Linked DNA regions of Homo sapiens: regions 1, 3, 4, 5 and 6 are each linked to region 2. The links come from fine-mapping of genetic effects on gene expression. A gene starts in region 2. Each other region holds a variant in brackets. All regions are shown on one strand. Distances are between the middles of the regions. Region 1 overlaps TNFRSF10B (TNF receptor superfamily member 10b). Region 2 holds the start of TNFRSF10C (TNF receptor superfamily member 10c). Region 3 overlaps PEBP4 (phosphatidylethanolamine binding protein 4). Region 4 has its middle 6.1 kb from the start of TNFRSF10B. Region 5 overlaps TNFRSF10D (TNF receptor superfamily member 10d). Region 6 overlaps RHOBTB2 (Rho related BTB domain containing 2).

Region 1 (5,072 bases), 53 kb before region 2:
ACCTATCAGAATGGCCATTATCAAAAAGATGCACGATAACAAGTGTTGGTGAGGATATGGAGAAAAGGGAACCCTTGCTTACTGTTGGTGGGAATGTAAATTAGTACAGCCATTACAGAAGGCAGTATGGAGCTTCCTCAAAAAACTAAAAATAGAATTATTATATGCTCCAGCAATCCCACTTCTGGGTATTTACCAAAAAGATTTGAAATCAGTATATCAAGGAGATATCTGCACTTCCATGTTCATTGCAGCTCTATTTACAACAGCCAAGTTATGCAATCAACCTGTGTCCACCAACAGATAAATGGATAAAGAAAATGTGGTATGTAGACAATACAGAATACTATTCAGCCTTTAAAAAGATAGAAATTTTGTCACTTGAAACAACATGGATGGAATTGGAATACATCATGCTAAGTGAAATAAGTGAGGCACAAAAAGAGAAATACTGTATGTTTTCATACATGAAATTGAAAACAACGAGGCTGGGCACGGTGGCTCATGCCTGAATCCCAGCACTTTGGGAGGCCAAGGTAGGGTGTGGATCACCTGAGGTCAGGAGTTCGAGACCAGCCTGGCCAACATGGTGAAACCCTGTTTCTATTAAAAATACAAAAATTAGCTGGGCGTGGTGGTGGGCATCTGTAATCCCAGCTACTCAGGAGGCTAAGGCAGGAGAATCACTTGAACCCGGGAGGCGGAGGTTGCAGTGAGCTGAGATGGCACCATTGCACGACAGCCTGGGCAACAAAAGTGAAATTTTTGTGTCAAAAAAAAAAAAAAAAAAACAACTGAACTCAGAAGCAGAGAATAGAATGGTGGTTACTAGAGTCTGGGCACGGGGGAATGGGGAGATGATAATCAAAGGTACAAACCATTGGTTAGACAGGAGGAATAAGATTTTTGAGATCTGTTGCACAGTGCAATGAATGTAGTTAATAACAGCATATTGTACATTTCAAAATTGCTAAAAGAATAAATTTCAAATGTTCTCACCATAAAAATGTTAAGTATTTGAGGTGTTGGACATATTAGCTGATTTAATTATTCCATATTGTATTCATAAATCATAACATAACTTTGTACCCTATAAATCCCCATAAATACATACAATTTATTGGGAGTTGCCATGTTGCCCAGGCTGGTCTTGAACGTTCGCCTGGGCTCAAGCAGTCCTCCTGCCTCAGCCTCTCAAAGTGCTGAGATTACAGGCATGAGCCACTGTGCCTGGCCGTAATTTCTTAATTTACAATAAAAATTTTTAAAAAATTTTAAAAAGGGCAAAGGACTTGAAAGACATTTCTCCAAAGAAGATAAGCAAATGGCCCATAAGCACATGAAAAGATGCTCACCACCACTAACGTCTACTATATTAAAAACAACAGCATGGAAAATAACAAGTGCTGGTGAGGTGTGAAGAAACTGGAACCTTCGTGCCCTGTTGGTGGGAATGTAAAACACACACTGGGAAAAACAGTATCGTGGCAGGCCAGGTTTCACTCAGCCCTCCATCACAACTGTGTCAGTACTGACTGAGTGGTTAAGTTAAATATTAAAAGCTAAAAAAAGCCAGTGCCCTTATATAAAGGCTGGGATGTAACAAAACCCCACCAAGAGTTTTGCCTAGGCCTTTCCTGGGCCTTAAAGCATGACAAAATAATGAAGAAATTCTTAACAAGGACTCATTTAGGATTAAACAAGTTTTACTGGGGGTCTGAAGAAACTCCCCAGGCCTCCAAAAACAAGTGTGTGGGAGGGCTGAAGGAACTCCCCAAACCTCCATGATTTAGCAGGAGACAAGATAAGGGTAATCACCCCAGCACCTGGACCCATTTAGATTAAGTAAATTTACTGAGGCTCCAGAGGAAGGTCTTCAGGACTCAGACCTTAGTTATAGATTCAAAGAAGTTAATCACTTATGTCTTTAGATGAATGCACACTTACATGTAGGCATATAGCTTAGAAGGGATATAAACTCTGAAAAGCTTTGTAATTTTGAGTTGGTCTG[G/T]TGATAATTTCCAGGCCTTCTCCTTGTAACCAGTTACAGAAATAAAAACTCTCTTCCTCCCCAGTTCACCTGCATCTCATTATTGGGCAGTGAGATTCACCTGCATCTCATTATTGGGCAGCGAGATTCACCTGCATCTTCTTATTGGGCAGCGAGATTCACCTGCATCTCATTATTGGGCAGCCCCACCCTCAGTTTGGTCTGGGAACAAAAAAGTCGCCAGCCAGAAGATAAGGACAGTGCCGCGTTCAGCGGCTGGTAGCTTGCGATGAGACAGTCTTCAGGAGGATCCCAGCAGCTGTCAGGTGAGGTTTCCCCAGGGGACCCTCCAGAGGGCTGTTTATGTGCAAATCTACACGTCCCTTTCTCTACTGGGGAAGAACAGAGATAAGGAGCGGACGTGCTCAAAGGGTGAGTCAATGGGATCTTAGGCCAGGAGCCTATTGTTTTCCCATTTGGGCTGGTTAAGCCATTTATCCGGTACTGCCAAGGGAAGCAACAGGGCTGGCTCATACACCCACTTTCCCTTTGGTTGATATCAGGTTTTGCGTTAGTTTTGAGAGTCTGTTTTGCCGTAGTGCACTTCCCCTTGGGTTTTTCTGAAATGTTTCCATTTGTTTGTGTGTCTGTCTTGTTCCTTTTGATACCATGTAAACTTGAAAATGGGAAGTATTGGGTCCATCTCTGCTGAGAGGCCTCTGGGAAGGAGAAAGATTTTTTGAAGCTCAATGATTGGGAGTCAGCTTAATTAAAAGCTAACATCCAAAATGTGTATGTGCATATGTGTGTGTGTGCGCACGGGGGCGTGAAGGCCTTTAAAAGGCCTTCGTGTTTTTGGTTTTATTTCTCTCTCTCCTAGGGCCTTATCTTTTTGAGCAAAACTTTTTTTCTTCTCAGTTGACTGAATTCTGTTTTCTTCATTAATAGCTATTAAACAGAAGCTACTCTGGGGTTTTAAAGAAAAAGTGTAATTTAGACACTTAGAAATGTCTTTGGGAAAAAATTGTTTAAGTGCACTGTAAAAGCATCACATGGTCTAGCCTCATAATAATTCTCCCTTTTTGAAAACCCAGGATTCAGTATGGGCTCCACCCAGAGCTCAAACATCCAGTTAAGGCCGGGCGTGGTGTCTCATGCCTGTAATCCCAGCACTTTGGAAGGCCGAGGCGGGCTGATCACTTGAAGTCAGGAGTTCGAGACCAGCCTGGCCAACATGGTGAAACCCCATCTCTAAGAAAAATACAAAAATTAACCAGGCATGGTGGCAGGCACCTGTAATCCCAGCTACTTGGGAGGCTGAGGCACGAGAATTGCTTTTACCTGGGAGGCAGAGGTTGTAGTGAGCAGAGATCATGCCACTGTACTCTGGCCTAGGCAGTAGAGGGAGACTGAAAAATGAGGTCTTACGAATCTATAAAATGTACTTCTATTGGCATGCATAATACACTTATGTATTTGTCTTGTGTACACCATGTTTCACTACTGAAGATATACAAAAGAGGTCTAATTAAATGGCTCAAAGAAAAAAGCACTTGAATAACAGAAAAAAGGAAAGACTAGTCAAATGCTTTTTCAAGTTTATGTGACTTAAAATCTTTAATAAGTAAGCTGGTTTTAAAAATTATTGGTAAAGTAATATTAGAAATGTCTTAAGAGTTTCCAGCATACATTTTAGTTTGCATTTATTGATCAAGCAATTTCATACTTATCTCTGCCAAATATTATAAGGTGTCAAAATCTGGCATAGAGGCTACAAAACTATAATTCAGTGCAAACAGAATAATCTTTGCATGTGTAATTTTTAAATAAATGAAACATTAATATTGTTTTAATGAAGATAGTTACATCTTGAATTATTTAGTAAAATACTCTTTTTTTTTTTTTTTAAGATGGAGTCTCGCTCTGTCGCCCAGGCTGGAATGCAGTGGCGCGATCTCGGCTCACTGCAAGCTCTGCCTCCCGGGTTCACGCCATTCTCCTGCCTCAGCCTCCCGAGTAGCTGGGACTACAGTCGCCCGCCACCGCGCCTGGTTATTTTTTGTATTTTTAGTAGAGATGGGGTTTCATCATGTTAGCCAGGATGGTCTCCATCTCCTGACCTTCTGATCCGCCCACCTCGGCCTCCCAAAGTGCTAGGATTACAGGCGTGAGCCACCGTGCCTGGCCAAAATACCCTAACTTCTAATCTTCTGGCCTTAAGCAGTCTAGTCCACAGACATGAAGGAAGTTTGTTCTGGGAAAGGACTGTTATCACATTTGTTTCAAAGCTAAATTATAAACTAAGTTAATAAACAAGAATACCTTGTAGGTTAGAAGGAAGATGGAGTCAGTTAGGTCAGATCATTTTCACTGTCTCGGTCATAATTTTGCAATGGTGGTTTCCTAACTTTAATGACAACTATCGCAGTTTTCATATATAATCTGGGTAAATGATTAAAATAAATAATTAGATAAATGTAATGGGATACATACTCATAAGTAAACTTGTCATAATTTAGAATCTAAAGTTATATTAAACAACAGATATCTAATTATTTGGGTATTTTCTAATAAAAATATATCGTAGGAAAACATTCTTTCTAAAGATTGTGTCCTTTTTAAAGGGTAACTTTTTTTTTTTTTTTTTTGAGACAGAGTCTTGCTCTGTCACCCAGGCTGGAGTGCAGTGGCACAATTACTGCTCACTGCAAGCTCCACCTCCCAGGTTCACACCATTCTCCTGCCTCAGCCTCCCGAGTAGGTGGGACTACAGGTGCCCACCACCACGCCTGGCTAATTTTTTGTACTTTTTAGTAGAGACGGGGTTTCACCGTGTCAGCCAGGATGGTCTTGATCTCCTGACCTTGTGATCCGCCCGCCTCAGCCTCCCAAAGTGCTGGGATTACACGCGTGAGCCACCACGCCTGGCCAAGGGTAACTAATTGTTGTCTTATTCAAAGCTTATTTAAAGGTTATATATAAAACAAGGTAAAAGAAACCAGGAAATAAGAGAGATATACAGAAAGTTATAAAAATAAGGAGAATTTTAAAGATTATTGGTAAAAGTATCTTCAAAAATGTA
Region 2 (5,072 bases):
AAGCTCATTGGCACTGTCAAATTTGAAGAAGAGGCGTGCTCTGACTGGTGAGTGACTGCAGTGGGTCAGGCTGGTCTTAGAGCAGTAGCAGGTTATGTCCATAGATATTAGATAGGACTATTAATAGTTTCAGGTTACAGCTGCCAGGCTTACAGAGAATTGCAGTTTGGGGGTAATACAGTGATTTTTCTTCCCCATGGCCTCTTGACTCTGTTTTAGTTGGGTGTGACAAGAATGACCCAATTTGTGCAATCAACTTTCACATTCTGCTTCCCAACTCTATGACCAAGACGTTGAGGACTGTTCATGAGCCAGAAAACAACTCAAGTACAGGGGCTTTTGCTGCTGTCAAATCTTCCATCACGCTAGGAAAACAGCATGCAATCCAACCCACCTAGCCAATTTGCCTTTGCCTTCTTCCATCAGAGGGGTGGCCTTCCAAATAGGATGTTGACCATTCACCTAGGAATGACTGTCTACAAACTAAGTAGCTCTTGGTTGGTCAGTAAAGAGCTGCGTATAGGGCAGTGTCCAAGTGACCACAGAATCCAGCAGCTCCTCACTCAGTTCCAGACTCAGTCTGTGGGGAACAGAGGCTCCCTGCTCATGAGTGTCTCCTCTTTGCCTTCCTCAGGCACCAGGATCCCGTATCAACCATTTCCATTTTGTAATAGAACTCTTCGGGGACTGCCCTCCCCGTTAGAGCTTTTCCAAGATCTCTGAAGACATCATGAGTTTTTCAGGTTTCAAGATTATTTTATGTCCTTCAGTCACAGGGGGAGCTTCAGCTAGTGTTCCATCGTAAGCTAGTAAGTGCCTCTCAAATGGAAACTTTATAGTCTAAAGGCCCAGTTCCCTGGAGGTGCTCACAGCCTTTTGCCATTAGCCCTAGGCAGTGCTCCACACAGGGCACAGAGAATGTGTGTTACCTGCAGTCTGGTTTCTAGTCTACACTGTGTAGTCCACCCTCCAGGGCCAAGGGGCCTGGAGTGCTCTAAAGACTTTCCTGCAGGCCCTCGTGGCTCTGTGTTAATGCTGTCAGTCTTCCTGAAGTCCTGTCCTCTCACCTCCTGCCTAGATCTGCCCCCAGCACACATTCCTGACTCCACACATTTCTCAGTGCCTGCGACCTGGCACACATTTCTGATCCGAACTCAGTGCCTGGGGCCTGGCAGGTGCCCAGGGCACTCCATTGCTCAAATCCAAGCCTGTGGAGAGGATGACATATCATTCCCAGGTTTCTGATGAGCAGAAAAAAAAATCTTTGTTTCTATAGTGCTATCCTCTTTTATCCACCATGTGAGAGGTCAGGAGCCGACTCACCCCAAGGGTCTAGGAGTTGTGCCATTGACCTTACTGCCTAGGGTCACAGGCTGGCACCCTTCAGTACCACACATTGGATCTCTCCACACAGCAGCAGTGTGCTTAACTCAATGGGGAGGTGAGTAGCCCAAGGTCAGATAGTTGGACCTGGATAGACACTTGACTGGGGGACAGGCTTTGGAAGCCACTCCCCTGGGCCTCCTCTGTCCATGGGGCCTCAATACTAGAGCCCACAAGGTCGGCCAGAGAGTGTCTGTGCCTCGACCATGCAAAGGGTGCCAGGTTGTGGCTAGGGATGCCCCCGGGGTTCCTCTCCCTCCTACCTACTCCTCAGCCTCTGCATGTGCCCGTCATGGCCCCTGTGTCCTTCATTCTGTCCACTCATGTGTTCACTGGGCCCCTCCTTGGTGCCAGGCACCCGCTACTGAGGGATACCAAGCCCCTGCCAGAGAAGCTTGGAGCTGGGTCACAGCAGCAAGGAGGCTGGAGACATCAGTGGCATCAGTGCACTGGTCAGTGAGGCCGCTGTGGGAGGAGGGAGTGGGAGCAGAAGCTAAGAGTGGACTGAAGTCCTTAGGCCAGGAGGTAGTTCAGGGTTTAAGAAGAGGAGAGACAGGCGTCCCGGGGAGGGAGCAGGCTCAGGATGGGCCTCCAGTGCCTCCTCTGGAGCTCACTACCCAGACTACAGCAGCGCAGTGGGCAGCGCCTCAGCTCCTTCCCCTTCTGCTGCCTACAGCCTGGACAGGACCCGGAATCAAACCGCAGGCCCTGGGTCACCGCTGCCGGAAAGAGCCAGTTCCTGTCCGTCCATGCACCCACCACCAAAACCCAGGCCTTCCTGGAGGTGCTAGGGGAGGCCATGCCCCTTTTCTGAGTGCTTGGAAGTGACTGCTGCAAGTGACAAGTGACCACGCCTTTTCCCCCGCGGGTATAAATTCAGAGGCGCTGCGCTCCGATTCTGGCAGTGCAGCTGTGGGAACCTCTCCACGCGCACGAACTCAGCCAACGATTTCTGATAGATTTTTGGGAGTTTGACCAGAGATGCAAGGGGTGAAGGAGCGCTTCCTACCGTTAGGGAACTCTGGGGACAGAGCGCCCCGGCCGCCTGATGGCCGAGGCAGGGTGCGACCCAGGACCCAGGACGGCGTCGGGAACCATACCATGGCCCGGATCCCCAAGACCCTAAAGTTCGTCGTCGTCATCGTCGCGGTCCTGCTGCCAGTGAGTCCCGGCCGCGGTCCCTGGCTGGGGAAGAGCGCACCTGGCGCCGGGAGGGGGCAGGGAGACGGGGACACGGCAGGGATGCCTGGCCCTGGTCACCTGCGGCCGGGCATGTCCGGGCAGGACGAACTCGCCGTCGGAGTCAGGGGAAGAACTGGGTCCCCGGGCTGGGCAGGAGGGACCCGGCCGCGAGGGAGCAGAGAGGCGGTCCCCCTGGCTGCCCCGAGCCCGCGAAGGGAGGGAAGTTCCAGAATCGAGAGAGGGAGGGAGTCAAGGTGGAACCCATAGAGTGAGCCTCCTGAAGACACAGAGCGGTTGCCTCTCTCATTAATTAATTAATTAGTTAATAAAATTAACCCCATGTTTACATTCTTAAACGTGTTCCTTGGAGATCGGTTTAACCAACAGCCAGTGAAAAAACTTTTCAGCGCTGTCTTTAGCAACTTTCACCTCCTCTGTCCTGAAAGTGGCAGGAAGCCGGAATGTGGCAGGAAGCGGTTAACCAAGGTGCTGCCTTGGTTAATGTCTTCCACTACCACCCGTGTGTCCCCTCTGTATCCCATAGGCAGGACCGGGGCTGGCCCCTTCCTTCAGCATAAACGGTGTAAAGTTGTTGTGAGTTGGCTTTGGAAACTGAGATTGGTAGTAGTGTGAGTGCAAGGACATATTATGTATAAAATATGCAGACTTCTAGGTCTCTTTCAGATTGATTGAGGTTTTTGCTAACAGCCCTTTTTAAGATTCTTTATGTAATACAAAAAAAAGAAAAAAGAAAAAGAAAAGGCCAAAGCAAGGTTACAGAAACCATGAGAGTTTGCATGTTGTCTTTCTACAAATTAATGCTAAATTCAGAAAAGCAGTAACATTTTCACCTCTCAAAAATTACACAACTGACTTTTAAAATAGTTTATAGTGGGTGGACTTACCTGAGGCAGCTAGAAGAATGGCTGTGTCAGGACAGTGGCCCTGAAGAGAGAATGCATGGATGACCAGTGTAGACAAGGCCAGCAACATCAGTTTCACGGTTTTGGGAATGTGAACTCTATGCGTCCCAAAGGAGGCTTTAATCCCTCCATCAGTCTTGCCTTATTAAATGCATTTAAATGTACAATCACTTTGTTAAATTTTGGAGCTAACACAAATCACATTAGATGTTTTATGGCAGTACATTCAGATTGATCTTCTTTTAAACAAGGGTATTGTATTTTACTGCATGGGTAAGCCACATTTTAATTCACTGTTGCCGCCTAGGGGCAGCTGGTTAGATCCCATCCTGACGGCCTTTGCTAATTCCAACAGCATTGTACTAAATACCCTTGTATGTATCGTGTGTCCACATATCCATGCACACCAGCTTATTGGGCAACTCCTTACAAGTTGAATTCTACTTCTCCTTCTGTGGGATAAATGACTTCAGAAGTTTCTTTAAATGTTCACGAATTTTCCTCCAAAAAACCACTGAACCCAGCTTACAGTCACACCTAGTCCACAAATGTGCCTGTGTCCCTACACCTTTGCTACACTTAGCTTTCATTCTTTACTAGTCTAAGATGTAAAACATAACACATCACATTGCTATGTATTTTTGTTTCCTCATGGTATTAGGAATTTTCAAGGATATAGGAGTTTTTTGGTACTGGGAGTAGACCAGGGTATCCAGATGAGACAGCAGGGAAGACTGAATTCTGAGCTGTGCACTTGGAAAACCCTGGTCAGTTGGGGCCAGTCCCTGCCACCCACCATGCCTGTGAATGGAGATAAGGTCTCCATCCTCAGCCTGTCAGGGTGACTTCAGATGAGCCTGGAGCTGAGTTCAGTTCCTGACCCCAGGTCCTGGCTCTGTCAATGCTGGGCTGGTCCAATCTGTGCGCCAGGTCCTTCCACACCATTCCTCTCTCTATCAAAGTAGGAATTGAGAAGTTCCAACGGCTCAGAATCTCGGACTCTCAGGCTGTCAAGGACTCCTGAGATTGAAGGTTGTGAATGGCTGGGCCCTGCCGTGCTCCCCCTCTGGCTCTGTGACTCTGGTGTGGCCCCAGCTCCTGCCTGTAAAGTGAAGAGGAGGTAAAAATCTTCAGCAGCCCTGTGTAAACCTCAGAGGGCTGTGTTACCAGGTGTGGGAGGACAAATCACATCCTCAGGGCTGGTGTCACTCACTCTGGACTGGATCCCCAGGCACCTGTCCTCCATCCAGCAGAGGCTGCCCCTGTTCCTACCTGCACCCTGGTACTTGCTCCCTGAGCTTGGGGCAGAAGCTTCTGAAGACTAGGGTGGAGCACCACGGGGAGGGGCCATGGAGGAACAGAGGAGCCAGACGTCAAGTGAGGACAGCGATGGCACTGCAGGGCCACAGCCTGGTTTACCTGCCATGCTTCCAGTTGTCCTTCTGGTAGGCGCCTGGCCCGGGTTGTAGTTTGAAGAGTGAGCAGGAAATGTCTCCATCCAGGTGGCTGCAGATGGCTACTCACCCAGGCTGTACTGAGAGGCCACAGTCCCAGTTCTGGTCCTCTGTCGTGTATCCAGGAGTG
Region 3 (5,072 bases), 210 kb before region 2:
ACTTTCTTATCTTTAAAATGCAGCTGAAAACAATGCCTGTCTCATGGAGGTGTAAGGGTTAAATGGAATCATGTAGCAAGCATTCAGCACATGTCAAGTCCAGGTCAAGGCCAACATGCAGGGGCAGGGAGAGGTGTAACCTCTTTCAGTTTGGAGCCATGCAGGACCCTGCCATTTGCAGCCCTTTGGGGTAAGACTGTAGCCCCCAAACATCCTGCTGCCCCAGAGCAGTGGCCCAGCAGGTGCACTGAGAGCTCTGGTGCACCTGGCATGCCCCGACTCCTCACACAGCAGCAACAGGGACAGTGACAGGGACCTGAGATGGGGTGGCCCACCTGGCTGGCAGCTGGCACTGGGCACATTGCCCAGAAGTTGGGGAGTTCTCAGGTAGGGGCAGAGGTGGGTGTTTGAGGGAGCAGTTAGCAGCACTGTCTGCTGTGGCAGGGGTCTCCTGGGTAAGGTCAGAGGGATTCGAGGAGGCCCAGGGATCACCCCAGGGTGGGGTGGGACGCTGCTCAAGTCACAAAGCAAAGTTGCAGGGTGTAGGGGAGGGGATGGGACTGTTAGTCTAATTGTGACTCATCTCTCCTTATTTTTCTCCTTATCTCTTGTATTTATTTTTTTCAATCCTCCCAAGTTACTGGGCCTTGAGGACACTCCTAGTGTGTGTGTGTGTGTGTGTGTGTGTGTATGTGTGTGTGTGTGTGTATTTCTATATATATAATTTTTCTTTTTTTTGAGACAGAGTTTCGCTCTTGTTGCTCAGGTGGAAGTGCAATGGTGCGATCTCAACTCACTGCAACCTGCATCTCCTGGGTTCAAGCGATTCTCCTGCCTCAGCCTCCCGAGCAGCTAGGATTACAGGTGGCTGCCACCATGCCCAGTTAATTTTTGTAATTTTAGTAGAGATGGCGTTTCACCATGTTGGCCAGGCTGGTCTCAAACTCCTGTCCTCAGGTGATCTGCCCACCTCGGCCTCCCAAAGTGCTGGGATTACAGGCGTGAGCCACCGTGCCCAGCCACTCCTAGTATATTTTTATAATATTTACCAAATAAGACTGGGTGTGGTGGTCCATGCCTGTAATCCCAGCACTTCAGGAGGCCAAGGTGGGAGGATTCCTTGAGCCCAGGAGTTGAGACCAGCCTGGGCAACATGGAAAAACTCCATCTCTATAAAACCTTTAAACATCAGCCGTGTGTGATGGTGTGCGCCTGTAGTTCCAGCTCCTAGAGAGGCAAAGGCAGGAGGATCGCTTGAGCCCAGGAAGTCGAGGCTGCAGTGAGCCATGATCATATTTGCCAGCCTGGGTGACAGAGCAAGACCATCTCAAAGAACGTATTTACCGAATGAAGTTTTATGATGTTCTCTAGCACTTTTTAGTTTATTGTCTTTAAAAAGAAACCCTCTGAAGTGTCTCTGGAGAATACAAACGCATGCGCGCATGCACACGCTGGGAACAGGAGCTGCTTCAGTAGGTAACTGAGTGGGAGGGAGGTTAGCTTTTCACTGTGACCCTTATCTGTACACCTGCTAACTCAAAATAATTTAATAACAACAACAATGACAATAAAAAGGGAGTGAGTGCTCTCATTTTAATTGCTGTCTACTTATTTCCAGTTAATTGTCTTCCCCTGTGGTGGCCTGCAGGGGACTCCACACATCTTCTTTAGGACATAACTTATTGGATGCAGGGCCAACCTAGGATGTTTGGCCAACCCACCCACTTCTTTTTTTTTTTTTTTTTTGAGACAGTTTCGCTCTGTTGCCCAGGCTGGAGTGCAGTGGTATGATCGCAGCTCACTGCAACCTCCACCTCCCAGGTTCAAGCAATTCTCCCACCTCAGCTTCCTGAGTAGCTGGGATTACAGGCTCGTGCCACCAAGCCCAGCTGATTTTTGTATTTTTAGTAGACATGGGGTTTCAGCATGTTTGCCAGGCTGGTCTCGAACTCCTGACCTCAGGTGATCTGCCCACCTCGGCCTCCCAAAGTGTTGGGATTACCGGATGCCCCAACCCATCCAGTTCTAAAAGGACCGGCCACGGGAGAACCCTCAGTCTTGGCCCCTGCTATGAGGGTGGGGCTTGTAAGTGAGGTGGCCGTGGCTTCTGCCTATCTCTGGCCAGGCTTCTGGAGCCCTCCTGGGCTGGGCCACACCAGTTTGCTCAGGGGCACTGGTACCGCATCCCCAGATTTCCAACCAGAATCTCACACATCACTATGACATCATCTTCCTAAACCATTAATTTCATGCTATTCCTGTGCCCAGAAACCTGCAATGCCTCACTTCTGTCCCCATCAAATCTCAGTGTTCTGGGCCTCTGCCACCAGGCCCTTGTGCCCAGCTGACTGGTTCCTCACTTCTGTCCAGCACGCCACCAGGCCTTCTCTTCTTCCATGTCAGGAAGTGCTGGGCTCAGGATTCTTACACCTTATTCCCCATGCTGGGAGCTCCCATCTCTCCGCTTTCCTGGCTAACCCAGGGCTAATCCTGGCCACAGGCTTACTCCGCCAGGAAGCCTTCCAGGCTTCGGCAAACTCCCATATGCTCAGTCACTATGTGATTTAACCACTGAGAAGTACCTCTCATAGTTTATTCAAAAGTATGTTTGTTTTGTCTTCTCAAGTGGATCATAAGCTCTCTGCATTCCCATAGCACCAGGCTTACTGCCGGGCACAATCTTCAAACCTCGAAAATGACTTGATTTGATTTGGACTCAAAAGACCTGGGTTTGACTTCTGAGAGCCTGAGTTTGCACAGCTACAAAATGGGG[A/C]TAATTTTCCTACCATACAGGATTTGTTGAAATCAGAGCTCGGGAGAGAAGCACCCATTTTGGAGCTGGGAAAAGGAGGAAAAGAAGACCATGGGAGTGAGAAACAGCAGGAGGCAGAGGCTGGGCCATCTGAGCCCCCTCAAAATCCAGAACAATGCAGGGGCTGAGAAGAGGAAGGTGGAAGCTGGGCTTTGGGGAGAGACCCCAGTCCCCTTCAGAAGATGCTACCCTGTTCTCCTTTCTGCTCTAAGGCTCCGGGGAGCTCAGAGTTTAGGGAGATGGTAAATGGGAGAGAAAAATTAAAGGCAAGAGAAGTCTAAGGAAGTCGTCAAAGCACAGCCAAGCAAACAGAACCCTTAAAGGAGGTAAAAGGTAATGCCGTAAATTACAGCTTAAAAGCCTCGTTTTGGGCAAATTGCTTTTTAACAAGCAGACAACCTCTATCAATAGCATCTACCGTATGTTTTTATAAAGTGCAGAAATATGTTTTTATAAAGTGCAGAAATATGTTTTTAAAAGGCCGGTAAATAAAGTTCCTATCGATTTGAACTCAAGTGTAATCTGTTTTTCTGTCTGCCACCAACACTGGTAATAAAGCAGAATCATGTAATACGGTATTTCAGCTAATGTGACTATACATCACTGCAGGGACGCCCTGCTCGGTGGCGATCTATCATTTTCTATTGGTATTGCTTAGCTGCAGAATTTATAAACTTGCTCCAAATTGATGCAATGTTCAATTTTCTTTTCCAATTTATTTTTGGTTGAGCCAAGCAATATTGAGGTCTCTGAGCAAGCCGCTGAGCACCACCAGATGTTACCTGGAAGACCTCATGCTCCTTGATAGGAGTGAGGAGAACATGAGCCAGTACTTGCCACTCTCAACAGGCACAGAGACAGAGAGCCCTGGAAGGAGATAGGTGATGGAGAAGAGGTAGCTTCCTCCCCTGGGGACTCAGCAACAATTGCGCTCTAGGAAATCCAGGGGCTGAAGGTGAAAGGCAAGAGAACATCCAAGAGAGAAACTGCAGTAATGAACACTCAAGAGTCTGAGACTTTCACTAAGCTGCAGACATCAGTTCAGTAGGTCTGGATGGGGCCCGCAATGGCACATTTCTACCAAGTGGCCAGGGAATGCCGATGCTGCTGGTCCACGGACCACACTTTGGGCAGCGATTCTCTAGAATTTTAGGAACTTTATGTCAATAAGCAACCTCAAGTCATAGACTTACAAATTTCAGCGTTGGAAAGACCCCAAGGTGAAATCTGGTGCATTCTCCATTCTCCATTATTTACATGGGGAAGGTATCATTAGCCCTATCTTTCAAACTCCCAGCTTCCCCTCTCTGTGCCCCAGTAGCACTGTGGGGCACACCTTCATAGTGGCACTTGCCACATCACACTGTGTTGTCCACCAGACAGAGTGTGTCTAGAGGTCACTATGTTCAGAGGCCGCCTGGCAGGTGGCAGGTAGCAGGCAGTGTGGCGCACAGAGTTTGGAATTAGACAACATGGGTTTGAGTCCTGACTTTTACCGGCAAGCATGCTTGGTCTTAGGCAAGTTACTTTACCTTCTTGAACCTCACTAGTAACTTGGGAATAAAGTTCTTTCCTCAACATCTTCCCCCTTTTCTTTTTTTTATTTGAGATGGAGTCTCACCCTGTCACCCAGGCTGGAATGCAATGGAGCAATCTCAGCTCACTGCAACTTCTGCCTCCCCAGGTTCAAGTGATTCTCCTGCCTCAGCCTTGCGAGTAGCTGAGATTACAGGTGTGCACCACCACATCCGACTAATTGTTTGTATCTTTAGTAGAGATGGGGTTTCACCATGTTGGCCAGGCTGGTCTTGAACCCCTGACCTCATGATCTGCCCACCTCAGCATCCCAAAGTGCTGGGATTACAGGCGTGAGCCACTGCTCCCGGCCCTTCCCATCTTATTAAATAGGATAACATATGCAGCATAATGACCTTGACACAATACCAGATGTCCAATAAAGGTCAGCTGTGTTATATATTTCTTCCATATGCACTTGCCAGATGAATGAATGAATGAATGCTTATGTGGCAGTCAAGGCAAAGCCAGTATAAGTGGCTCACACATAGGAAGATGCCAGGGCAGAAAGTGGGGTGGGAGCCATGGAACCAGGCTCCTCCTGCCCTCTGTCCTACCTCACCTGCTGTCTCCCACATCCTCATCTCCCTCCAATGAAACCCAAGTAACAAATCCAAGAAGTGTTCATTTTGGCCTCTTGGGCTGGTGTGATTCATCCCACTCAGAAGACAAAGCTGTTTGGGGG
Region 4 (5,072 bases), 28 kb before region 2:
GGCCCTCCCTGTGCTACAGCCTGGAGCCTGTCAGGCGGTGAGCTGAAGCCACGACTGCACTCACCTCATGGGTTTGCGGGGAGAATGATTCACCCAGGAAGCAGACAGTGAGCCCTTTACTCTGGGAACACCTGTGCCTGGAGTCTGCTGAAGGCAGGGAGGACAAATGAACCCCATGTGAATCCTACTCCCTGGAGCCTACAGTGTGGTGGGAGAGGTGACACCAGGGGTCATATAACTAATAGGAGGTAGCATGAGGGAGGCCTGAGATCTCACCACCCTTGCCTCCCCCTCCTCCAGAGAGGCTGTGCTGGAGGGAGGCCATGCCATTGCAAGGCCATAGGATGTGGTATTGTTTGCCTGGAAGATGTGGTTTGATTACAGCCACCATTGAGGGTCATGGAGGCAAGCTAAGCTCCCTTTAAGGGTATTTTTTTTTTGGCTGGGCCTGAGAATTAAGTTGACATAAGACAGGTCCACAGGAGAAAAGCACACAAATTAATACAATGCAAGTTTTACATGGCACAGAAAAAGCAGTGAGAGTCAGTTACTTATATACTGAATTAGACCAAGTAACTTGGGAAGAAGCAAGTAAATATGTGGAGGCTAAAAAGATGAGTTATTCTATTCTTTTTTTTTTAATATCTGCTCCTTTAAGGAATAAAAAAGACAAGCTTACCTTTTAAAATATATTTTACATATGTATACAATCTAAATTTATTTTTCTCTCTTTATCCCTGAATACTTTATTATTTTTTTTTTAATTTTTTGGAGACAGAGTCTTGCTGTGTCGCCCAGTCTGGAGTGCAGTGGCATGATCTTAGCTCACTGCAAGCTCCGCCTCCTGGGTTCACGCCATTCTCCTGCCTCAGCCTCCCAAGTAGCTGGGACTACAGGTGCCCGCCACCACACCCGGCTAAATTTTGTATTTTTAGTAGAGACAGGGTTTCACCATGTTAGCCAGGCTGGTCTCTATCTCCTGACCTTGTGATCCACCTGCCTCGGCCTCCCAAAGTGCTGGGATTACAGGCGTGAGCCACCACGCCCGGCCTACTTTATTATTTTATTTTTACTTTAAGTTCTGAAATACATGCGCAGAATGTGCAAGTTCGTTACACAAGTATACTTTTGCCAGCGATGCACCTGCTGTTTTTCAATAGCCTTTAATTCATAATAGTCAATGGGCCAGGGTAGGCAGGGTGCAATGGCTCACACCTGTAGTCCTGCCAAGGCGGGCAGATCACTTGAGCCCAGGAGTTCAAGACCAGCCTGGGAAACATAGCAAAACCCATCTCTACAAACAATAACAACAACAAAACCCACAGAAAATTAGCCTGGTGCAGTGGCCTGCACCTGTAGTCCCAGCTGTTTAGGAGGCTGATGTGGGAGGATCACCTGAGCCTGGAAGGTTGAGGCTGTAGTGAGCCGTGTTCACACCACCGCACTCCAGCCTGGGAGACAGAGTGAGACCCCGTCTCAAAAAAAAAATTCTTTTAGTAATGATTATGCTATTCAGAGTGTGCGCTGAAATACAGCACTTCCCATAAGTCAGGCTCTATTCAGATCCCTTCATACAAATTCACACATTTAATTCTGACAGCAACCTGACTGTGCCGGAACTATAATTAAGTTGGTTCTCTTACGTGAGACACAGATCAACTCAGTAACTTGCTGAAGGTCACACAGCTATTCCTGGGGTGGGGGGCTGGGGGATGGGTGAGCCAACCTCAGGGGAGCAGCACCCACTGCCCAACTGGCTTCTGCTGCCTTTCCCAAGGGAGAATTTGCTGCTCACCTCATTCTGGGTCACTGCTGGGAGGCCTCTGAGAGCTCATTTAATGCCACTTCCTGTTTTCAGGAGAGAGAAACGTGAAGTTTAGAGAGGAAGGGAAGTGACTTCCCCGGACTCCTGCAGCTCTTTAGTGGCTGGCCCTGGTCTTGTACAGGGATAAAAAGAAACTCCACAAAACTCAGAAGTAGATCCCAGGCCACAGACTGAGAGAACAAGTCTGAGTTGATGTCTGGTCTTCTGAGTGATTGCTCAGTTCAGGGTCAACTGGCAGCTTTAAGGGTGTGTGTGCCCTGCAGAGGAAAGAGGAGCCTGCTTGGCTTGAGGGAGGGTGAGGGCCACACTGGGCTTTGCAACCACCTACCTATTGCATCACCAGTGGGGGATGTGCATGACCAGGAAACCCCCAGTTAATGACTCATCTGGGGAGAAGCCTGGATCTGCAGAGCCTTGCAGGAGAGGACCTGAGCAAGCCTCCACCCTCCTCCCTTCTCATTCTCCTTCTCTCTCCACCATGCCTCTGGCATGCTGCGCTCTCTCTCTCTCTCTCTCTCTCACACACACACACTCACTCACACACACCAGGAAAAGTTCAAGTCTGACAAAATTCTATGGACTGACACAGCCACACATCTCTGGCCACACACCCCTTCTCCCTCAATCAGAGGCCCGCATCCTGCACAGCCTCGTCCCAACCTCACTTGTTTTTACTCCCCTCCCCCATTACTTTGACTTACTATTTGTCTGGGATTCTGTCTGTGTGGACTTTCCCCTCTATGTCCACTAATGTCTCTGCCACTTATGGTACTTGTCACCTCTGCCTGAGCAGCCCCTCCAGACTCTTCACAAGTTCATGGACTTTGGGGTTAATGATGGCTGTGCCTCAGCTCCTGTGAATGGAAACTGTGCTAAGGAAAGGAAGGGCCATGCTGTGTTCCCGATACTCCACGGCTCCTTGTATGTGTGGTCGCCAGACGCCTATATTTCTTCCATGAGTGAATGAATGAGTAACGTGGATTCTAGGAAGCTGCACTAATGCAGATGTTGCGTTCTCAGCCTGCTCATAGA[G/A]TGTGTTAAACGTGAGAGGTGGGGAGTGTGGCAGGCAGGCTGAGGACAGAACAGAGGATCTGAATAGCATGCAGAGGATCACCCACATCCTGAGTCACCAGGACCATTGTCAAGTTTTCACCGGAGACATCGCCCATCAGATCAGCACTTCAGAGATCATTGTTTGCCCAATGCAGAGTGGATTAGGTGGGTGACCTCAGACATGGCCTGGGCAGCATTTGGGATGGGTCCTAGTGGTTAGGGTGAGGGTCAGGTTGCATTATCCTGAAGGAGGCAAGTGGCAGCTGAGGCGGATCTGAGGGAAATGATGATGATAATGCAGGCCGGTGATGCAATAGGTTTGGTAAGAAGAGGAAAGAAGTTCAAGGTGGATTCTGGTTTTCATAATCTGATATTTGGCTGAGATCATTACCAAATAAGAAGGAGCAAATGGGCATAAAGTGGCTTTAAGAATTAGCAATGTGAATATGATTTTGGAGACGCCACGGACACTTCATTGCTAGTAGACCTGCAGGACACAAAATGCTTCAGGCAGAAGAGATCTGACACCAAATGGAAACCTGGATCTTAAGGAAGAAAGGAAGGTCACCAGAAATATAAAGTTGGGGAAAATGTAAAGGATTATTACTTCTTCTTAGTTTCTTGAAAATATGTATTATCAATGATGATAACATTGCTGTGAGGTTCGTAAAGTATGCATAGTTAAGGCTTAGGAATACTGGGTGGTGATGAATGGACACATCTTGTTGCGAGTCTCTTACACTTTACATTAATATCACACAATTAATTCAGCAACACAACTCAGCCATGAAAAGGCAGTATTACTGCACATGGCCACAGGGATGGTTTTCAAAATGATCATGTCATGTGAAGGAATCCAAGCAGAATGCATACCGTCTGATTCCACTTCTTATTAAAATGCAACTAATCTAATCTATTGTGACAAAAAGCAGAAGAATCATTGCTGGGGACATAGGAGCAAAGCAGAAGAGAGGATTACACTGAAGAATGAACACATTCTGGGGGGTGGTAGACATGTCATTATCTTATTGTGGTGATAGTTTCGTAGTGTATACATACATCTCAATCTACCAAACTACACATTTTAAAAATGTACACTTTGTTTTATATTCATTATACCTCAATAAATTCTTTTTTTTTTTTTTTGTTTGAGATGGAGTCTCACTCTGTCGCCCAGGCTGGAGTGCAGTGGCGCGATCTCGGCTCACTGCAAGCTCCGCCTCCTGGGTTCATGCCATTTTCCTGCCTCACCCTCCTGAGTAGCTGGACTACAGGCGCCCGCCACCATGCCCGGCATTTTTTTTTTTTTTGTATTTTTAGTAGAGACGGGGTTTCATCAGGTTAGCCAGGATGGTCTGGATCTCCTGACCTCGTGATCTGCCCGCCTCAGCCTCCCAAAGTGCTGGGATTACAGGCATGAGCCACCGAGCCCAGCCAATAAATTCATTTTTTAAAAAACTTCAAATAGAATACAAACACTTGAGTGTATACTGTATTCCCTATAGCACTTGCACATAGATCAGGAAATATGTATACATTAAAAGTCAGTATCCAGTTGGGTGCAGTAACTCACGCCTGTAATCCCAGCACTTTAGAAGGCTGAGGTGGGTGGATCACGAGGTCAAGAGATCAAGACTATCCTGGCCAACATGGTGAAACCCCATCTACTAAAAATACAAAAAATTAGCTGGGTGTGGTGGCACAAGCCTGTAGTCCCAGCTACTTGGGAGGCTGAGGTAGGAGAATCACTTGAACCCTGGAGGCGGCGGTTGCAGTGAGCCGAGATCATGCTACTGCACTCCAGCCTGGTAACAGAGCGAGACTCCGTCTCAAGAAAATAAAATAAAATAAAATAAGCCGGTTGCGGTGGCTCACGCCTGTAATCCCAGCACTTTGGGAGGCTGAGGAGGGCAGATCACGAGGTCAGGAGATCGAGACCATCCTGGCTAACACGGTGAAACCCCATCTCTACTAAAAATACAAAAAATTAGCCAGGCTGGTGGCGGGCAATTGTATTTCCAGCTGCTGGGGAGGCTGAGGCAGGAGAATGGCGTGAACTTGGGAGGCGGAGCTTGCAGTGAGCCGAGATCGCGCCACTGCACTCCAGCCTGGGCAACAGAGAGAGACTCCTTCTCAAAAAAAAAAAAAAAAAAAAAAAAAAAAAAAGAAAGGAAAGGCAGTATCCAATTAAAAT
Region 5 (5,072 bases), 35 kb after region 2:
TTGAGATGGAAAAGACTGAAACCCCTAGAATGACTATATCCGTAATTTATCCTACCACGACTGGGCTACTGTGGAGAAGAGTTTGCTGGAAAGAAGCTAAAACGATTACTGAGGTTTTTAAATAAAATAATGGAACGTGACACAAGGACAAATGTGTCAGCCATTTTAGATCCTGTTGTCACAGTGTTTAAGAATTGATATCTCTGAGATGAGTCAGATGCTTACAGAGGGGCCAAGCTCCTCAAACAGGGAATCTGTACCCTAAAACGCAGCTCAGGAATCTCTGCCCTAAAAGGCATCCCAGGGACTCAGTTCACAGACCACCAGAAGCGAGAGGGGCCCATCCATGCCTGAGTCGGCAACCATTTCACACCATTCCCAAGCACCGTCCACTCTTCCCTCTTGATGCCATGGCAGATGCCGGGGCAGATAAACACCTGCTCTGCCCTGAGCCCAAATGAGGCTCAAGATTCACTAACGTTCAACTGTAATGGCGCTTGAAAGAGAAGCTCTTCGCAGTCTCGGATCTAACTTAATTCTCACTGTCCTCATCTGCTGTGGACAAGTCGGAAGATGCAGTCCCATGACTGTCCCAGCACGACAAACCAGACACATGGCTTCCCAAAGATACCAGGCTCTTCAAAATCCTGGGCATATGTAAACATCTACTTATAAATAAATAAATAAATATTTATTTATAAATAAATATGGCTATATACCTCTAAAATTAACAAGTAAGACAAGCTGCCCCTTGAGAAGCTGCCAGCCATCAAACCCTGGTCCAGTCTCAGGGCGCAGGAGGGAGAACTGGAATGCAGTAAGTGCCTCCCACAGAGGGAGGATTTCTCCCTCCGTCACTAGTTATATTTTTAGTCATTTTTGACTGCTGATTTGTATCCAGGCAACCCATGTAAACAGCCTAATAAGTGCATTTCCTAAAGTTTTTCCATGTTTACATCATTATACAAAAATCGGAAAAGAGATGTACAGCCTACAGTAGTAAGCAATATAAATGTTTCTCTAATTAAGGTGGGGGTAAGCCCCAATAATCCTATCTTAAAGCTCAAAACTCTAAGTCGAACCCTCGTAAGTCCATATGCTCATGACTTAGCATAGGGCTACGTCTTGATAATCTCATCATTAAGTCAAAAATATCCGAAACTGAAAATACAGGTAATAACAAGATAATCCCGTTCTAAAGTTAAAAAACTATAAGGCAAAGCATTGTGGCTGTGCGGCATCTGTAGTTAGATGTCATTAAATGCACACACCAGTAGAGATGGAGCTTGCAATATAAGAAGCAGAAAAAAAGACTTGTCTCATGATGAAGAACTGCAAAGAATGACATCCTAAAACCACTTTTTTTCTTTTTAAATTGAGATGGAGTTTCACTGTGTTGATGAGGCTGGTCTCAAACTCCCGAGCTCAAGCAATCCACCTGCCTCAGCCTATCAAAGTGCTGGGATTACAGGCATGAGCCACCGCATGTGGCCTAAAACGACCCTTAATACACAATCGTATAACTATGCAGCCAAGAATCTGATATAAATTTCTCCCGTTTGCTTATCACACGCAGTATTTCATAAAAATTACTCCAAGTGCGTTAACAAAGTTCTAGGACCATTGGTAAGCTGCCCCATATTGGATAGTAGAGTTTGTTGGGGCATGGGTCAAGTACTGGACTGTTTCTTCCAGGCTGCTTCCCTTTGTAGGAGAAAAGGTAAATGAGGGAAGCTCTGGTTTCCTGAAGAGATTCTTTCACAGGCAGGACGTAGCAGAGCCTGCCTCATCTTCTTCATAAAAGAGCTTTTCGGAGCCCACCAGTTGGTCCTGAATTGTTTCCTTTGCATGTCCTTCTTCCAGTGTTGCCGAGGCATCCAGCAAGGTGCTGACTGAGAAGAGAGAAGAGATTTAGGGTCTCAATGCTCCAAGGACGATCAGCACAGGATCGACATGGGGCCCCCTGCTTCCAGCAGTGAAACCTCCAGAAGAGCCCTCTCAGCTATAGGGACAGCAGTTAGGACACCGTCCCTATTCCCTGTCCTCCTGCTGCGTCTCAAGGCACAAAACACTTACTGTCAGCGGAGTCAGCGTCATTCACTGGAACCAGCAGCCTCCTCCTCTGACACCCTTCAGCTTCTGCCTGTTCCTGTAACACACAGTGGGGAATGCTCTGGTCAGAGTCAGGAGTCCTGCAGTCTAGTACTGACCCTGACCACTAGCCAGCAAGAGACCTGCAGCGCTTTCCCTCTTGGGTCTCCATGGAGATGGAGACAAACCTCTGGTCCTCCATAGCTCTTGGGCTCTGTGTGCTGGTGGCTCATTGAGACATAAGTGACATGCAGTAAATGCTCACTTTGTAAGTGTTCTGACCAACTTTGACTATAGGCCTGTGTAATTATCCCCTGATCAAGACATAGAAACTGCCACACCCCAGAAAGTCCCCTTCTGCCCCATCTAATCAACTCCCACCCACCCTCACAAGAAATGATCACTTCCTTCCAGAATTCTTACCAGCAGAGTCTCGGCAGACTATATATGAGAGCACCCAGGAAAACCTAACAAAATGATTTATCCCAAGACTGTAAATGATCTTTGATCATC[A/G]GTACTCTACCATATCAATAGCGTAATTAAATAAAATGGCAGTCTCTATGGAGGCTGGAAAGACATTTGGTAAAATTAAACAGCAATTCTGATTTTTTTCAAACCCTTTTAGAATAGTAAGCTGTGTTCTTGATGATGAGAATTTCTATATGAAACCAAAAGTGAATGCCATTGCTAAGAGTGACACTTTGGAGGCCTTCCCCAGAAATCAAATCAGGACCCAAACACCTGCCTTCCCTAAGCACAGCTGAATATTGTTCTGAAAGGTCTGGCCTAGGCAACAAGATGGAAAATTAAAATGAGGCAAGACTTTTGGAAGAGGGCAGACACAATAATCATTATTTTCAACGTCATTTAAAACCCCTAAGATGAAACTACAATATTGAAATAGAAATGTATGTCTGGAGGAATGTTAAAAACATAGCAAATGCAATAAATTAGCAAACAGAATTACAAGGTTATCCAACTCATAATGGATACAAAATACTAAACAGCCATAAGAAACAGGAATAATTTATTTGAAGAGGAACACAAATCACAACTCAGTTACAATAAAATACTTGACACCAAATGTTATCTCCTTTGATAAGGAAATACTGAATATTAATAAAATATTCAGTGTTTCTAGATTAATTTTTAATTTTAAAGCGAATTGATAAAACGGCAACTGAGGTTTTTCGGGAGGGAAGGATGGAGGAAATCTTTTAATTCTAAATTTTATCTGGGTAAAATAATACATTTTGAAAAAGTATGGAAGAGGTGTTTGCTCTTTTGGATGTTAAAAAACATTAGAAAGTTCCCATTGGAACATGCCTCAAAATGGTAAGAGCCATCTATGACAAACCCACAGCCAACATCATACTGAATGGGCCAAAGCTGGAAGCATTCCCCTTGAGAACTGGAACAAGGCAAGGATGCTCACGCTCACCACTCCCATTCAACATAGTACTGGAAGTCCTAGTCAGAGCACTCAGGCAAGAGAAAGAAAGAAAAGGCATCCAGATATGAAATGAAGAAGTGAAAACTCTTCATGGACGATATGATTCTATACCTTGGAAACCCTAAATACTCCACCAAAAGGCCCCTGGAACTAATAAACGACTTCAGCAAAATTTCAGGATACAAAATCAATGTATAAAAATCAGTAGCACCGGGCACCGTGGCTCACACCTGTAATCCCAGCACTTTGGGAGGCCGAGGCAGGCGGATCACGATGTCAAGAGTTCAAGACCAGCACGACCAACATGGTGAAACCCCGTCTCTACTAAAGAATACAAAAATTAACGGGGCGTAGCTGGGTACGGTGGCTCACGCCTGTAATCTCAGCACTTTGGGAGGCCAAGGAGGGCGGATCACAAGGTCAGGAGATCGAGACCATCCTGGCTAACACGGTGAAACCCCACCTCTACTAAAAATACAAAAAACTAACCAGGCGTGGCAGTGTGCGCCTGTAATCCCAGCTGCTGGGGAGGCTGAGGCAGGAGAATGGCGTGAACCTGGGAGGTGGAGCTTGCAGTGAGCTGAGATCGCGCCACTGCACTCCAGCCTGGGTGACAGAGCAAGACTCTGTCTCAAAAAGAAAAAAAATCAGTAGCATATCTATATACCAATAATGTTCAGGCTGAGGACCAAATCAATAACACAATCCCATTTACAACAGACACACACACACACACACACACACACACACACACACACACACAATACCTAGAAATACCTCTACCCAAGGATGTGAAAGATCTCTAAGAGAATTACAAAACACTGCTAAAAGAAATCATAGATAACATGAACAAATGGAAAAACATTCCATGCTCATGGATTGGAAGAATTAATATGGCTAAAATGGGCATACTGCTGAAATCAATCTACAGATTTAATACTACTCCTATCAAATTACCAATGTCATTTTCCACAGAATTGGAAAAAATTATTGGAAGTAACTGAATCACGTGGACTGGTTTTTCCAGTTCTGTTCTTGTGATAGTGAATAAGACTCACAAGAGCTGATGGTTTTATAAAGAGCAGTCCCCTGCACACGCTCTCTTGCCTGTCGCCATGTAAGATGTGCCTTTGCTCATCTTTCACCTCAGGCCATGATTGTGAGGCCTCCCCAGCCATGTGGAACTGTGAGTCCATTAAACCTCTTTTTCTTTATAAATTACCCAGTCTCAAGTATTTCTTCATAGCAGTATGAAAATGGAATAATACAACTCCCCATTCAACAGCTGATGCTTCGGATATTTGGCTAGCCATATGCAGAACAACGAAAACTAGACCCCTACTTTTCACCATATACACAAATTAACTCAAGGTAGATTAAAAGTTTAAAGGTAAGACCATGAACTATAAGAATTCTAGAAGAAAACCTAGAAAACACCCCTCTGGACATCAGCCATGGCAAAGAATTTATGATTAAGTCCTCAAAAGCAATGCAATAAAAACAAAAATTGTCAAGTGGCATCTAATTG
Region 6 (5,072 bases), 100 kb before region 2:
ATTTTAGGTTTGAGGGGGCTTATCTGTGTTTAGGCTTGCATTTCTTTAATCTGACCATTCAGGGTCCCTTTGGGCCTTGCTTTCTGTTGGATCTGCACGGGGCTTCTTGCAATGCCAGCGACCCCCGTGGGAGCCTCCCCGAATTAGGAGTCCACTCTCTCTTTGTTCTTCTCCTTCCAATTCTCCATTCAATCCATCTCCCTTGATTTTACCTTCATTTTCAGGATTTTCCTCCCATTCCCATTTTGTAAGATGATGTGGGATACTGGTTGCTAGGAGACAAGCCAGGCTCCCAGGGAGATTCTGTTGTTTCCTTGACAACCAGACTAGGGCAGCCACAGATGAACAAGCCTCCTATCAGCTGTGGGAGGGAAAGGGGCCCTTTCTGAGCTCTGCAAAGAGTGTGTGTAGGGGTGTGGGGGTGGGACTGGGAGAGCACGAGGTTTGTAGCTAATTTCAGCACACCTTGGGTTTTGGCTTGCACCAAGTACAAAGAGCTGGGAGAGCGGTGGGCAGGAGGCTGTTTTTGGAGGGGCACAGGGATCATGGGACAGGGATGGAAGGAACACATGCCAGTGACTTTGCGATTGTCATGGAAGAGGAGTGAGTTGGGGGTTGTGATGCCCAGGGCTGGGTGGTGAGGAGGTCATAGTTTATGGAGGTTGATTGAGTGGGGATGAGGCAATTGTGAGGGAGAGTCTGGAGTCAGGGAAGAAGAGAGAGCCGGAGGGAGAGGGGAAGCTGAGAGGCTCACTGAATGGGCTGTATCACCATATATCAGCAATGAGTGGGCTGTATCACCATACATCAGCAATGATACAACATCAGCAACATCCTAGGGCAAAAATTATATTACTCTTGGCACACTCTCTCCAGGACAGGATCCTCCTTTAAGACAGGCCTGATTAGACTAAGAGTTCTAACACTTGAATTGGGCCAGTCTGTATCTTAAAGACAGATATAATTACACATATAGATATGCAATCTAGCATTATATAATACCACATTACATAAGAAGACAAATACCTCCTTTCAGCCCAGCCTCTCTTGGCACAAATTAACCACGGTTCAGGAGACTCTTCCAATGTCTTCATACCCATTTCCCAGAGGGGGAGACTGATGCCCAGAAAATATAAGTGACTTGCCTCTTCCTAGATAGGACAGTGAAGTTTGCCAGTCAGGCAGTTGGGACAGGGTAGAAAGGGTGAGATGATACAAACAGAGAGGCAGCTGAAGGACAAGGGGACTGCTGAAGGGGCTGGGGAATGGATGGAAGGGGTTGCGCAACCCAGAAGGTCTGATGTCTAAACTCATGGCACAGTATTTGTCAATTTCCACTTGTTGATTGGCTGACCACTGCTTAACTCTAGAGGTGACATAGCACAGGTGGGCAGCAGTGTTTTCATCACAAAGTAGCTGAACTTGGCCCAGCACTGCTCTGCTGGTGTTCTGGCATTATTCTCACTGTCAAGGTGCTCCTGAATTTGAGAACTGGCATCCCTCCATTAGGCCTCCTCATTCCCCCGCTTCTGTCTACAGACCTACATGCTGGGAGAATCGGAACTTGAGAAAGAAGTTCTTTTGGCTCTTGGGTTTTAATCTTTATCCTCCAGCTGCACATATTTTGTATTTGGGATTATATCTGTTTTGGTATTCACTCGACAAAACAGAAACCACAGCCCAGATGCTGCCTCCTGGCGCCAGCACATTCCTCAACTTGAGATCAGGAACTGTCAAAGTGGGGTTCCCGGTCCTCAGTTCAGGAGAGAGAATTGGGAGGAGGAAGCCTGTGGTTAGAATAACAGTTCTTAACAGTTCTCTGGGCCAGGTGTGGTGGCTCACGCCTGTAATCCCAGCACTTTGGGAGGCCAAGGCGGGCAGATCACTTGAGGTCAGGAGTTTAAGACCAGCCTGACCAACATGGCGAAACCCCGTATCTACTAAAAATACAAAATTAGCCGGCATAGTGGCACACACCTGTAATCCCAGCTACCTGGGAGGCTGAGGCAGGAGAATCACTTGAACCCAGGAGGCAGAGGCTGCAGTGAGCCGAGATCATGCCACTGCACTCCAGCCTGGGTGTCAAGCGCAAAACTCCGTCTCAAAAAAATACAAAAACAAAAAACGGTTGTCTGCTGAGGGAGGGTTAGGAGAGAGAAGGGGTGGTACAGTTGCCCTGGAGACCATGAGGGCACTGCATGGAGACCTCGTTGAAGGGTCCAGATCCTGTAACATTCCAAAAAGGCGGAGGAGGTTGTCTCATTGAGAAGTCCTTGCTGCACTTTTTGCTTAGGTTGCTGAGATGCATCCACTC[G/A]CACGGATCCCAGTTGCTATCGTTACTTGGATATTTCGGTCTGCATCCCTGCATGCTGGCATCCAGTTACAGCCCAGCAGGAATGGAGCCTCCCTGTTGTTGCTGGTGGCCTGGCTCTGGGCTGGATGGCTCAGCAGCCAGGGTGCCTGGGCAGCCTCCAGCACTCAGAGCTCAGCCTTCCTTAGCCTAGGAGGGATGACTCCGGGCTGCTAAAGCCCCCCCAGACGACTTTCATACACACAGGAATGTGAGTGGGGCGGGCAGATGACGCTGGCGAAACCAAGCGTCCTAATCACGCTGGCCCTGCCCCTGCTCCCTAATCCCAGGAGGGTGGATGCCGAGGCCAGGGCCTCCTGGCGACAGATTTTTAAACACGAACATGACATCTGACTACAGAAGTGCCTTCTGTTTGTTCATTCAAGCCATCCCTCTCTGGGGGTGGACAAGCCACTTCCTCTCTGCTCAACATCGAAGGCAACTGAGGCAAGCATTTGCCCAGAAATTCAGGCTCAAATTTCTGATCTTTTGCTTTCTGGCAATCCCATCGCCCATGTAGCCAGTTTAGTGAACATCACCTAGGAGTGCCAGCTGCCTGGGATCTTCAGCCTGAGGATCATCCTCCCTAGGAATGGGAAGGGCAGAAGAGGGTGGAGGTGGATCTCACTCTCTGACGCTGGGGGCAGGGTGCTGGGAGGACAGCCCCCCGTAGGGGAAGTAGAGGCCCATTGGCCACTGACTGTATCATCATAGGCCTGTGGTTCCCCTCACCCGCATCTGAAAGCTGGACCTGTAGCTGAGCATGACACATGGGCAACAGGACAGACCCCGAATAGAGAAAGGGAGGCCCCTGGGCTGGTCAGGTGCATCCAGGAACCTCCCCATCCTAGAGAGGCTGGGAGGAAAAACTCTTGCATCTCCATAAAGGGGACTGGGGTCTGGGGTTGAAGCATGCACTTAGGCAGGCTAGGGCTTGGAAATCCACCACCACCAGAGAGGGCAAGGGAAAGAGTGGAGGCCAGGAGAGCTGCTGCCCAGTTCTGACAAGTCCATTAAATTTTAAAGTGCCCTGCCCTCAGGCATGCTGGGAAGGGGTGGGGACGTGGCCGACTCTGCTTCTCTCAGCTGTTTGTTGTTCTGCTGCCACTGCTCTGCCGGGGAAGGAGGAGGAGAGCAGATGAGTGAGCTGCCCTCTCTGGAGAGGGGACAGGGCAGGGCCTCGGCAAGCTCCACTGGTGATCTCGCGTAGGTCTCCTTCATCCAGACGCACAGCTGGAGGATCGTGGGAGCAGGAAGGGGACAGGTGGCCCATCTGGTGACACTGCTCCTCTCAGCCTGAATGGGCTCCTGGCCCCTTGGACCCTCGCAGAGCTCTTGCCCAGAACGTTGCCCACTCCTTCCTCCTCCTGTCAGCTCCGGGGCTTGCAGAGGGGGCAGCCTGGCTGAGGAGAGCTGCGGGTGCTGGCCCTGGCCCACGGCGAGCTGGCATGCCATGCCGTCCTGACCGCCTCCCTCCTCTCCCTCAGGTCCCGTTTAATGGATTCTGACATGGATTATGAAAGGCCAAACGTAGAGACCATCAAGTGCGTTGTGGTGGGGGACAACGCCGTGGGTAAGACCAGGCTCATCTGTGCCCGCGCTTGCAATGCCACCCTCACCCAGTACCAGCTGCTGGCCACGCATGTGCCCACAGTATGGGCCATCGACCAATATCGTGTGTGCCAGGAGGTAAGGCTGCAGGACTACCTGGCTGGGGGTCCACGCCATGAGTCTGGGCTTGGGGGCTTCCTGAGGCATAGCTTGGTGTCTCCAGAGCTCACGGGAGCCCTCTAGGGGTGGGACAGGATGGGTTGGGGGCAGCTGAAGAGGAAGGAGCCCCTGGAGAGAGGTTTAAGCCAAGTCTGCCCCAGGGAAGTGTCTCTGGCTGGTTGTGTTTTCAGGGACTGAGCTGGTGCCTGGGACTCCATCTTTGTCTGGGGTACCGCATTGTATGTAGTCACAGCCTTAAGTAATGGGGAGCACTGGAGGGCTGGGGCTTGGAAGAGATACAAGCTGAGAGGAGCAAAGAAGCTGGCAGCTGATAGCAAAAGACCAGAGGCTCACAAACATGCAGTTTGCAAGGAAAGCCAGGAACAAGGGTCAGCTCCCAAAGAGGCCCCTTCCACACCCATAGCAGTCCCTTAGGGTCTCTTCCACCCCCTTAGGGTCTCTGCTACCCTCTTAGTGTCTCTTCCACCTGCTTAGGGTCTCTTCCACTCCTGGTCAGCTTGGAGGCCACCCTTGTTATAGATTCTACAGAGATTTTACGTGGATGAAAGTTGTGCAGGGTGCACAGTGGGCGATGCCAGCCTTGTCCCTCCATGCCCAGTGATGTCTGGGGCCCCCAGGTGTCAGCCGGCGCTTATCCTGAGGTGGCACGCAGAGGTCCCCAAAACTGCTGCCTTCGAGTCCCACTCTTCCTCCCCGTCCCCAGGTGCTGGAACGCTCCCGAGACGTGGTAGATGATGTCAGCGTCTCTCTGCGCCTCTGGGACACCTTTGGAGACCACCACAAAGACCGTCGCTTTGCTTATGGGAGGTAGGGAAGGCCTCTAGCCGCCTGCAGAGAACCAACAGGGTGGGTTTTTCCCTGCTTTTCCCAGGAACAAAGCACCTCTGTGAAATTTCAGCTGGCAAGAAGAAGTGGAGAAAACAGCTCTGGCAGAGCCTCATGGGGGCTGGGGCAGCCTGGTGCAGTGAAGGGAGCCTGGGTCCGGGATCAG

What was found.
Region 1: its variant is fine-mapped to the expression of TNFRSF10C in whole blood (TOPMed, PIP above 0.99).
Region 3: its variant is fine-mapped to the expression of TNFRSF10C in whole blood (INTERVAL, PIP 0.96).
Region 4: its variant is fine-mapped to the expression of TNFRSF10C in whole blood (INTERVAL, PIP above 0.99).
Region 5: its variant is fine-mapped to the expression of TNFRSF10C in whole blood (INTERVAL, PIP above 0.99).
Region 6: its variant is fine-mapped to the expression of TNFRSF10C in whole blood (INTERVAL, PIP above 0.99).

Annotation. Positions count from the first base shown.
Region 1 is chr8:23,047,666-23,052,737 of GRCh38, forward strand. The region is part of intron 1 of TNFRSF10B (TNF receptor superfamily member 10b); the gene reads right to left. Among named protein-coding and RNA genes, the nearest start is that of TNFRSF10B, 19 kb to the right of the region's middle. RefSeq lists an enhancer at 2,371-2,665. The variant G/T (reference allele first, on the strand shown) is at 2,012.
Region 2 is chr8:23,100,638-23,105,709 of GRCh38, forward strand. TNFRSF10C (TNF receptor superfamily member 10c) reads left to right here and starts at 2,284. Exons shown (of 5, transcript NM_003841.5): 1 at 2,284-2,544. The coding sequence starts at 2,485. It overlaps LOC254896 (a long non-coding RNA gene), which reads left to right. Exons shown (of 4, transcript NR_046173.1): 3 at 1-47; 4 at 2,060-2,921. RefSeq lists an enhancer at 2,349-3,158.
Region 3 is chr8:22,886,428-22,891,499 of GRCh38, forward strand. The region is part of intron 3 of PEBP4 (phosphatidylethanolamine binding protein 4); the gene reads right to left. It overlaps PEBP4-AS1 (PEBP4 antisense RNA 1), which reads left to right. Exons shown (of 4, transcript NR_125433.1): 3 at 1-816; 4 at 1,249-1,595. Among named protein-coding and RNA genes, the nearest start is that of PEBP4-AS1, 11 kb to the left of the region's middle. RefSeq lists an enhancer at 325-825. The variant A/C (reference allele first, on the strand shown) is at 2,774.
Region 4 is chr8:23,072,641-23,077,712 of GRCh38, forward strand. It overlaps the pseudogene TNFRSF10B-AS1. Among named protein-coding and RNA genes, the nearest start is that of TNFRSF10B, 6.1 kb to the left of the region's middle. RefSeq lists an enhancer at 2,041-2,300. The variant G/A (reference allele first, on the strand shown) is at 2,858.
Region 5 is chr8:23,136,112-23,141,183 of GRCh38, forward strand. It overlaps TNFRSF10D (TNF receptor superfamily member 10d), which reads right to left. Exons shown (of 9, transcript NM_003840.5): 8 at 2,077-2,149; 9 at 1-1,892. The coding sequence ends at 1,759. Among named protein-coding and RNA genes, the nearest start is that of TNFRSF10D, 25 kb to the right of the region's middle. The variant A/G (reference allele first, on the strand shown) is at 2,605.
Region 6 is chr8:23,000,588-23,005,659 of GRCh38, forward strand. RHOBTB2 (Rho related BTB domain containing 2) reads left to right here. Exons shown (of 10, transcript NM_015178.3): 2 at 3,838-4,039; 3 at 4,785-4,888. The coding sequence starts at 3,848. Among named protein-coding and RNA genes, the nearest start is that of RHOBTB2-AS1, 3.3 kb to the left of the region's middle. RefSeq lists enhancers at 3,168-3,693, 3,694-4,218. The variant G/A (reference allele first, on the strand shown) is at 2,315.